Regions from separate parts of the Homo sapiens genome. Here region 2 is linked to region 1. Evidence: fine-mapped QTL for protein levels in blood plasma. Region 1 holds a variant in brackets. A gene starts in the other region. All regions are shown on their forward strands. Region 1 has its middle 18 kb from the start of IL1RN. Region 2 holds the start of CFHR5 (complement factor H related 5).

What was found. PIP is the posterior inclusion probability: the model's chance that the variant is causal. Protein levels are from antibody-based Olink assays in UK Biobank. Linkage for the fine-mapping came from a reference panel and not from the study's own genotypes, which makes the PIPs less certain.
Region 2: CFHR5 starts here. The variant in region 1 is fine-mapped to the plasma level of the CFHR5 protein (UK Biobank, PIP 0.97).

What each region holds. Positions count from the first base shown.
Region 1 is chr2:113,107,262-113,112,648 of GRCh38, forward strand. It overlaps a transcript of IL1RN not described here. Among named protein-coding and RNA genes, the nearest start is that of IL1RN, 18 kb to the right of the region's middle. The variant T/C (reference allele first, on the strand shown) is at 2,450.
Region 2 is chr1:196,974,694-196,980,080 of GRCh38, forward strand. CFHR5 (complement factor H related 5) reads left to right here and starts at 2,863. Exons shown (of 10, transcript NM_030787.4): 1 at 2,863-3,029. The coding sequence starts at 2,972.

The DNA of each region.
Region 1 (5,387 bases):
AGAGATACATTGTAATGAATCTGTAAATCACCAAAGCTAAAGATATTATTTCACAAGTGGAATGACAGCTGACTTCTCAACAACAACGAAAGCAAGGAGACAGTTGAAAGACATCTTGAAAATGGTGAGAGAAAAACTAACTGTTAATATAAAATTGTGTACCTATCAAAAATATCTTTTGGCCAGGCGTGGTGGCTCACGCCTATAATCCTAGCACTTTGGGAAGCCAAGGAACGTGGATCACTTGAGGTCAGGAGTTTGAGACCGTCCTGGCCAACATGGTGAAACCCCATCTCTACTAAAAATACAAAAAAAAAAAAAAATAGCCATGTGTGGTGGTGTGCACCTGTAATCCCAGCTACTTGGGAGGCTGAGGCAGGAGAATCGCTTGAACCCAGGAGGTAGAGGTTGCAGTGAGCTGAGATCATGCTGCTGCACTCCAGTCTGGGTGACAGAGTGAGACTGCCTCAAAACCAAACCAAACCAAACCAAACCAATCTTTCAAGAAGTACACCATAAAGACATTTCTGGATAAACAGTGAATGAGATTACTTCCTAAACGAATATGTAAGGATGTTTCTTTTTAAAATTTTTTTTGGGTGTATTCATCACCTCAAGCATTTATTCTTTTGTGTTGTTACAACTGATAAGAATATCTAAGGATGTTTCAAAAGGAAGAAAAATGATCCCTAAAGTCTGGTATATTAGTTTCTTATTAGTTGCTCTAAGAAATTACTGCAAACTTAGTGGCTTTAAAAAACACGAAATTATCTTTCAGTTCTGTAGGTCAGAAATTTAACCTCCTGATTTCTGGTCAGAAGTCTTACTGGGCTAAAATCAGGGTATCAGCAGGGCTGCTGGAGGCTCTGGAGATGATGTTTCTCTAATTTCTAGAGGCATTTGCATTCCTTAGCTAGTGGCTTCTTCCCACATCTTCAAAGCTAACAGTGGCAGTCGAGTCCTTCTCTTATCTTTTTTTTTTGGGGGGGGTTATAAATTTTTTTTATTATTATTATACTTTAAGTTTTAGGGTACATGTGCACAACGTGCAGGTTTGTTACATATGTATACATGTGCCACATTGGTGTGCTGCACCCATTAACTCATCATTTAGCATTAGGTATATCTCCTAATGCTATCCGTCCCCCCTCCCCCACCCCACAACAGTCCCCAGTGTGCGATGTTCCCCTTCCCTTCTCTTATCTTATCACTCTGACCTCTTCTGCCTCCTTTCTCTACTTTTAAGGACCCTTGTGATTAGATTGGGTCCACCTAAATAATCCAGGATAATCTCTTTATTTTAAGGTTAGCTGATTAGCAACCTCAATTCCATCTGTAACCTTAATTTCTTTTTTGCCATGTAACCTAACATAGTCACAGGCCCAAGGGAATAATAGGATGTGGGAATTGCGGGTGGTGGAGTAGGGGCATTATTCTGCTTACCACAGGGGACCTTGGATGTCAGTAAAAAATGGTGAGGAAGAAAACAGGAAACGTAGAATAATCTAAACAAATCTTTGAAAAATAAGTCGAAATGTGGGGTTAGAAAAAGGGCAGAACTAAAATGTTAAGACAAATTAAAATGTTAAGCCTATAAGTTGAGAGGGAGATGATCAAGGTTAAAAATACTCATAAATCATATTTTTTTGGGTAGGGGGTTAGATATTTATTAATTTTAGACCCTGAGAAGTAAAATAGTCATGACAAAAATTTAATAGTAACCACTAAAACAAGAGAAACAGAGTATATAACTTCTAAATCAATATGGGAAGGGGAATGGAATAAGAAAACAATAGCAACCACCAACACCCCACCCAAAATAAATAATAAGGTGAGAGAGAAAAAGAAGCATTGAAAAGGGGCTAAAATAAAATAAAAAATTAAGTCATGCCCGTAATCCCAGCACTTTGAGAGGCCAAGATGGGTGGATCACCTGAGGTCAGGAGTTCGAGACCAGCCTGACCAACATGGGGAAACCCCATCTCTACTAAAAATTCAAAATTAGCTGGGTGTGGGGGTGCATGCCTGTAATCCCAGCTACTCTGGAGGCTGAGGCAGGAGAATCGCTTGAACCCAGGAGGCAGAGGTTGTGGTGAGCAGAGATTGTGCCATTGCATTCCAGCCTGGGCAGCAAGAGCGAAACGCCATCTAAAAAAAAAAAAAAAAAAATTAAGATAGTAAAACAAATCCAAATACATTAAAGATTACAAAAAATGAAAATGAACTAAACTTCCTAGTTGAAAGACATATTGTCAGATTGGATTTTAAAATCTGGCAATGATATTTCCAGGACACAGTCCTAAAATATTAAACACAGAAAAGTTGAAAGTAAAGGGATGGAAGAACACAGTCAAACTAACTAGAAGAGAGCTGGGTTCACCCTTTTATATCAGAGCAGAATTTCACTGAGAAAACACTAACAGGAAGGGGGAAAGGCACAACATAGTGA[T/C]GAAGCACTTAATTCTCAACAAATGTATGACACTTCTAAACTATTATGACTGCAAAAAAAAAAAAAACCTCAGCATATATAAAATTTTGGAAGAGCCATGGCTATCAGCTGACATGCACTTACCATATTTGCATTGTCCTACTACAAACTTTACCCATATGACCAAGGTGCTGTCTTCATCCCCATTTTACAGATGGGGAAATTTCCCCATAGAGAAAAAGATTTGGGCCATGCCTTGGTTTCTTCTTGACTCTGCTTCCTGCTGATTGATCCTCACACCTCACCTGGAGACCTACTTCACATTATCCATCAGGATGAGAACTGGTGTGCCTTTACCAAAGGACCACAGTCACCTTCAAAACGTGTTTAGATAGATCTGGATGGAGACTTATGTGGTTGCAGATGAAAAAAAAGTCCCCATGGTATATCTGACTCCATGTCATTCACTGCATGAACACTCACACACATGCACACGTACACAGGCAAACACAATCCTGTTCTGGTCCGGCAGTAGTGCCAACACTCAAATCCCAGGTCCTACTCTGAAGCCTTTGAGGAAACCATTGTCATTCTGGGGTTTATGGGAATATTTCTTCTTGGTGCCCCTTGTTCCTCACAGAAGCTTTTTTTCTGTGCTGTGGGCTTGCTATCCTAGCTTTCCAAGCTATCCTAGTTTTGCAAATTTCTCTGATCAATCACATCAGGTTCTTGGATCATCCCAAAATTAAAGAGGTACGTTTTGCTGCAAGAGACAAAGACATTCACCTCTCACACAGTTTGAATTCCTGGGTAGAAACAGATTTCAATGCTGGCCAGCCTCTGTAGCTCCCAGTGCCCCCTCAATTATGACTCCCGAGGCATTGGAGCAGGATCCTCACCTTGCGCAAAGATAATTAGGTGTGCTGAAGAAAGCCAGACACTGCTCTTTCTTAGCTCTGCATCCTTAAAAAGTTACCACTACTCCTTCTCTTTGAACCTTTGACTTGTCAATGGTAAAGTGCCTATGATTCTTAAAGGGATAAAAACGCAACCTATATAAAGCACCTGGCATAGTGCCTGGCACAGGTGGGTGTTTAACAAATGTTAACTCCTTTCTATCCCACTGTGGGTGTCCATATCCTCTTGGGTAGGCTGCCTCTGGTTTCCATTGTGTCATCAGAGCCATACTAAATCGATGTGTTGGACATGGATCCCAAGAACTAATTTCTGGAATGAGTTATGCCTACCAACTTCCCTGATACTTACTTCTGTCTCTCCATTTATCAAATGGAAATGTTTGCATTTGGCCTCTGCCAGTTGGAGTAACCAAAAGGCTTAGAGGTTTTGGAGAGGTCCTACACTGCCATCTGTTTGACCACATACTGCCTTTCACGTGTAATAAGCATTGTTTCTTACATTTGTCTAGGAATTAGCAGTTCACAAAGCACATTCGCATATAAGGGCTTGTTTTGAATTGATCTTGGCAGCAATTCTATGAGACAAGTAAAAGGTAGGTCAAGCATTATAATCCTCATTTTAAATCTGGGAAAACTGAATCTCAAAAAGGTTGAAAGACTTGTCTAGGGGACAGTGTGTGGGTAAATGAGAAGTTAAGATTTGCTGAACTGGCATTTCCTGACTACATATCTAGTGTTTATTTATGGAGAAGGCACTACGGTGGCCAAGTGGCTCAGAGTCACACAGCTCTGTGCCTCAGTTTATTTGTCTGTAAAATGAAGATAATAATATATTCTGAATACTGTTGTGGAATTTCATTGAGATAGTTCACATAATGGCATGGATACTGTAGTACACCGCCTAGATTCACAACCCCACGACTATCCATGAGAATGGCCCATAGCTCAAGAGGTCACATTCTTTCCCCAGGTGAAGCCCGCATCCAATGACTGCTCAGTGTGGGTATATAAAGGCCTGGCTCCCTTGCCAGTGCCACCCTACCTCCTGGCGAATGGACTGAGGCTTGCATTATGACTGCATTGCAGCTCAACTGTTCTTTCCATTCAGTCTTTCCTTTACACTCACACAGGTGAGGACCCAGCCATTAAATGCCTCACATGATAACCTCTATTGCATGCTAGGCTTCGTGTGCACACACAAAAACCATCCTCTATCAGTCAGGTCCCTTACTTGCAGAGGCAAAGAGGCCAGTCTGGGTTAGATGTGCACCCTGTTTTTACAACAGAACGAGACAAACAGGTCCTCCTTAGGTGTAAGTTCATGGCCTTGGCCCCACCCCTGAAACTCAGCCATCTGAGACAGTTTTAGGCCTGAGGCAACCCCAGACTTTGGGTTGTTGTTTGCTGGGCACAGCCTCCTTTTGCCAATGTTGCAATCCTTTGTAAGAGACCACAGGTTGATCACCCGTTCCTGTTACTGAGCACAGAGAGGTTTGTAGGCCAGTCTCTCCAGGAATTCTGACGCACTGCAAAATCCCATGGTCTGAATGCTTCTACCTTCCCTGTGAAAGCCCCTGGCCTCAGAAAAGGAAGCTGGTTTAAGTGACCAACATTTGGGGCGGAGCTTCCGAGGGCCCAGCCACCGTGTTACATGCAACACTCAACAGAGATATTCTTTGGCTAGAGTTGTTTTTCTGGGTATAGGACCCTATAATTAAAATCAGCTCTCCAACTTCCCTTCCTCCAAAAAGTATACAATGTAAGGAGGAAAATGCAAATTGAAAAGTTGCTAGTCCTTCCCGCCAGAATGCCACCTCAAGCCTCCCCTGCAGGAAGTTCTGGAGTCCCCAACTCTGCCCCAAGCCTGAGGCCCTTGATAAGGTAAAGGGATGTGAGTGTGGAGGCCGGAGCCCCCCTCGCCCTGTAGGCTGCTCCCCTTGCTTTTCCCTTTGAATGTTACAGTTTAGTTCTGTGACTTACTTATAATTGCCTGAATTCCCCGCCCACGCTTTCTCTTACTTTGGGGCTTCTCACCGTTCCTC
Region 2 (5,387 bases), not on the chromosome of region 1:
TTCTAAACTGCCCTTTTATTTCTTATCAAGTATAGTTTCCTTCTCCTTTTATTTGTTGCTAATGTTTGCAGGAGGGCATAATCTCCTGAAATTACTCAGAACAAGAAACAAACAAAAAAGGGCAATCTAAGTTTCTGAATTAGGAGAAATATTCAGCAAATAAAAAGGAGAATAATTGTTGAGTACTGGGCTTCAAAAAAAATAGACAAGAGAAGATAGTGTTAATTCAACTAAAAATCGGCACTAGCTCTGTGAAAATTAACTCTGTGCTTACAAATAAATAACATCCCCTGGATTCAGACAAACCAATGTTTAAAGGTCACAGAGATTAGAAGAAGCCAACAAAAGACTGAGATGGTGAAGCCTTTGAGACAGAAGAGAAACCAGGAGAATGTGGTGTTCCATAGACCATGTGAAGCAGGTATTTCCAAATGGAAGGGGAAAGTCATGAAATTTTTCTGAGTATTCAGTTTTGACCAATGGATTTGATTAGATTGAAGAAGGCATTGGTGACTGTTACAAGAGGGGTTTAAGCGTAGTGTTGGGAATGAAAAAATGAATTAAAGTAGAGATTGTAGATAACATTGGAGTCATCGTATTATAAAATGAGAAGTGAATTAGATTACTAGAAAGAGATTTGGGTTCTATGAACAATTTTTGAGCTTTTGTTGTTGCTCTTCATGATGAAAGATGTTTGGTATGTTTGCATATTGGTGGAAATAATTTGGAAAATGGAGAAATTAATGATACAGGTGAGAAGGAATAATTGAAAGAGCAAAATCCTTGCACAGAAAAGATGGGATCAAATCTGGTAGAGACCATAACAAGATAGGAGTAAAGATCAACATCCAGTGAAGCAAGAGACAATGCAGAAAAGGATGCGTGTGAACAGCAGGTAGTTTTCTTCTGATTGATTCTATATCTAGATGAAAAAATAAATGAAGTCATTAGCAAAGCACAAAGTGAGGATTGGTGGTTAAGGAGGGAGATAATGAAAACAGGAGAGGGGAAAAGCAGTGTGGAAATTATTTAGGACCGTGTTCATTAATTTAAAGCAAGGCAAGTCAGCACAGTTGCCTTTGTTTTTCTTGTAGACACACTCTGCTGCTTCAATTCAGGCACAGGGCAGGTAGAGAATTTATTTGCAAAGGATTGAGGTTTTCTAAGACTTGGATTACAGATAGAAAGGAACGAATGGGCAGGAGAGTGTGTGCAAGGGACTGACTGACAGTGATGAGCCATGGAATCTAATTTAGATGTGGTGGGAAGAGAGAAAATGAAGGGAAGAGAATAGTGAAAAAGTGTCAGGGTCATTGAATGTTTGGAACAAATTTAGTAGAGTAAGTGAGCTAAAAAGATTGTTGAAATGGTCTAGAGTGTGATGCTTAATATTTAGATACTTTAGGTAGTGTAGTAATTGGAAATGACAAGGTTTAGATAGACTAGAATCAATAGTGGAGACTACTAATAGCTCACAGGGACTTCTCTGGTTTCTTGATTGGACATAGCTATGTGCATTCCCATTGACTTCTGAACCACCATAAGTAAGTTTCCTCTTAGTGAGATCATTAGGCTGTTTCTGTAAATTTCCCCATTAAATGTTAAATTTCTCTCAGGCTGGGCACTTTGTTGCTTGCTTCAGCTAGTATCCTCTAGTCTTCTCTGATTGTTTCCCACTGTAATCTCTTTGTATTCAATAGGATCCTCGGGCATGGACCTTTCCAAGCTATAAAGTCACTCTTCTCCAGCAGGGGAGCAGAGCTTCCAGTCCACATAGCCTGCCTGCCCATCCAGGGTTCAACTTCTGAGCCACGGAATTGGGCTGCGAGACAGAGGTGGATGAAAGCATCCGCTCTCTTTTACTGAATTTTATGGAGACTTTCTGGAAAAAATATTTCCCAACATTATGCTGTTTGGCCAATTTCCAGAGACAACCAATGGTTACTTTTAAATTTTTATCCAGTTTTATTGCTGCCTTTTGGTTGGGAGTGAATATACCAAGACCCTCACATAGCCATTCTCGAAGTCCCACCTGAACAAAATGATTTTGAATTATAATTCTGTTCTTCAAACATTTCAGGAAACGTTACTTGGCAAAAATTATTCTTTTTTTTTTTTTTTTTTTTTTTGAGACAGAGTCTCGCTCTGTCGCCCAGGCTGGAGTGCAGTGGCGCGATCTCCACTCACGGCAAGCTCTGCCTCCCGGTTTTACGCCATTCTCCTGCCTCAGCCTCCCGAGTAGCTGGGACTACAGGCGCCCGCCACCACGCCTGGCTAAATTTTTTTTGTATTTTTCAGTAGAGACGGGTTTCACCGTGTTAGCCAGGATGGTCTCGATCTCCTGACCTTGTGATCCACCCGCCTCGGCCTCCCAAAGTGCTGGGATTACAGGCTTGAGCCATTGCGCCCGGCCAGCAAAAATAATTCTTGATTAGACCTTTTATAGTTTATGAAATATTAAAACTGTTAAGAAGGTACCTAATTCTTAGTGCCAGTTTTAAAAGGGAATTTACAACTACAAAAGTGATATTGTTGTATTAAGATGAGGACTGATGACTTGCACTTGCTTGCCTTTTGAAACAGCTGAACCCTTGGCTAGAAAAAAAAAAAAAACCCAGGGGGCCGGCGGTGGGGAGCTTCCTCTCTCCTCTAAACAGTCCATTTCTGATTGTTCCAAACTCAGAGACTCGGTGACTACAACAAGGAAATTGAACAGCAGTTATTTTGCTTAAATAAATATTACATAACGAGCTGAGAATATTATTGTGAAGACACTGATTAGATACTATTTGCTTATTTCACACAACCCTCCATGAACTTTGATGTTTTCCACAAAGGGCTTTACTAAACTAGCTTCCCCTTAGTACATTGAAATTCAAAGTCATGCTTGTAACTGTTAATGAAAGCAGATTTAAAGCAACACCACCATCACTGGAGTATTTTTAGTTATATACGATTGAGACTACCAAGCATGTTGCTCTTATTCAGTGTAATCCTAATCTCATGGGTATCCACTGTTGGGGGAGAAGGTAAGTTGAAAACAGATCCGAATATTTTAGTTCCTTTTCAAATGTATTTATTGATTGTGTGTGTGTATGCATACAAATATTTTTAAATGAATAAATAGCTGAGGATAATTTGAAGGGGTATCACAATATTCATCTATTTTCTGGAAATATTTTCCAACATGCAATTAGCAGGAAAATTGAATGAAATTAATTCTCTCCGTTCTCTAGTTTGCTAAGGGTAAATGGTCACCAAATAGATAATGTAAAGAGAAATCAAAGGAGAGAAAATCTGCTATAATAAAGATGACAAGGTGAAATATTAGTGTAATTCTGCATAAACTCTGCAATGCCACTGACTAGAAAAATCAACCCCAAAAGATTTGGCCACCTTCATTATGTTTTGAGAATTTTATTTTCATAGATTTGATAATTTACATTTTAAATGTTATTAAAATGAAGGAATTCTCATTTCAGCCTAATTATCATTCAACAGGGAAATATATTTTAATGAAACAATAGAAAATATTATTTTTATATATAAACCAGTGAACTGCCAAAAAATTGTTTCTTCTGAGCTCTTCCACAAATTTCAAAAGTGAAATAATATATCACTTCTTTATTAATACTATAAACTGATTCTTATAACATTATAAACTATCCCATTTTATTTCATGTGGAAATTAAAGCCACTATATCAAAAGGATTGCAAACAAAATCTCTAACAAGGTCTAGGATACTGATTAAACTATGTGTGTACGTGAAGTTTCAATCATTGTGCTATATACTCTTTGATTTCCAGAAAGTTTTTATTTTACTGCTTTACTGCTTTCTAATGTTTACAGATCTTTAAATTTTTTGAACACTTTCTTCTCAGTCCTGACATAAGAGAAAAATATGAACCATAAAATGCTTTCTTTTTAAGATATGCCCTTACAAATGTTGCAAAACATTATTTCTATGGGCCTAAAATTCATTTTATTTTGTTTTCACTTTTAGTACTGAGCTATAATCACAAGAGTGCGATTGCATGAGTGTATTTGATTTTTCTTAAGTCTGTGTTTATGATATTTATTAAGTGGCTTAAACATCTGTTACAAATGGCATTACACAAGGATTTCTAAAGGGGGGTGGAAGCAGAGGAAGATAAGTGAAAATTATGAGGATAATATGTAGAATTTTGACAATTCCTAACCCCACAAAACTTTCAAGCTTCAGTCCAGTCCCAGGATAAACTTTAGTGAAATTCTATTAAAAGTTGTCTAGGTGTTAAATGACCTGTAAGTGTGCATTACACTTTTGTTTTGGTGTCTATTTAGAAACTGGCCAAACAGCAGAAATAACAGACGAAAGCAACACTTTTGTACAAATAGAAAACTGCATGCTTCCAGTAGCAAAACATGAATCAAGCAATATATTGTGCTTCATGCTGTAGCAAAGAAGCTGGAAAGAATATGACAACGCCACCCACCCCTCACTACTACTTAGAGTGTCCTAAAAGAAAAGCAAAATGTAAATAGGCAAATAAATTGCAAGGTTTTATATATAGGTAATTGTCTGTGTGTGTGTGTGTGTGTGTGTGTGTGTGTACACTCATACATCACTTAATGATAGGAAAACGTTCTGAGAAGTGTGTCTATAGGCAATTTCGTCCTCCTGCAAACATCATAGAGTGTACTTACACAAACCTAGATTGTATAGCCTACTACCTAACTAAGCTATACGGCCTGTCACTCCTAGACTGCAAACCTGTACAGCATGTTACTGTACTGAATACTGTGGGCAACTGTAGCACAAATGTAAGAATGTGTTTACCTAAACATATAAAAGGTACAATAAAAATACAATATAAAATATTAAGAATGGCAGACTTGTATAGGGCTCTTACCGTCAATAGGGTTTGCAGGACTGAAAGTTGTTCTGGGTAAGTCACTGAGTGAGTGGTGTGCAAATATGAAGGCTTAGCACATTACCATACACTACTGTAAACTTCATGAACACTGAATACTTGAGCTAGGTAAATTTATTTTATTTATATATTTATTTCAATATTTTGGGGGGAGCAGGTGGTTTTTGGTTACATGGATAAGTTCTTTAGTGCTAATTACTGAGCTTCTGGTGCACCCAGGATAGACTAAATTTATTTTTAAAACTTTTCTTCAATAATAAATTAATTTATGATAAGCTTTCTACTTTATCAACTGAAAATCTTTTAACTTGTAACTCTTTTGTTTTAGCTTAAAACACACCTTGTATAGATGTACAAAATATTTTTTCTTTCTATCCTTATTCTGTAAGATTTTTATCTTTTAAATTATTTATTTATTTACCTTCTACACCTTTTTGTTAAAAGCAGACACAAACACACACATTAACCTCGGC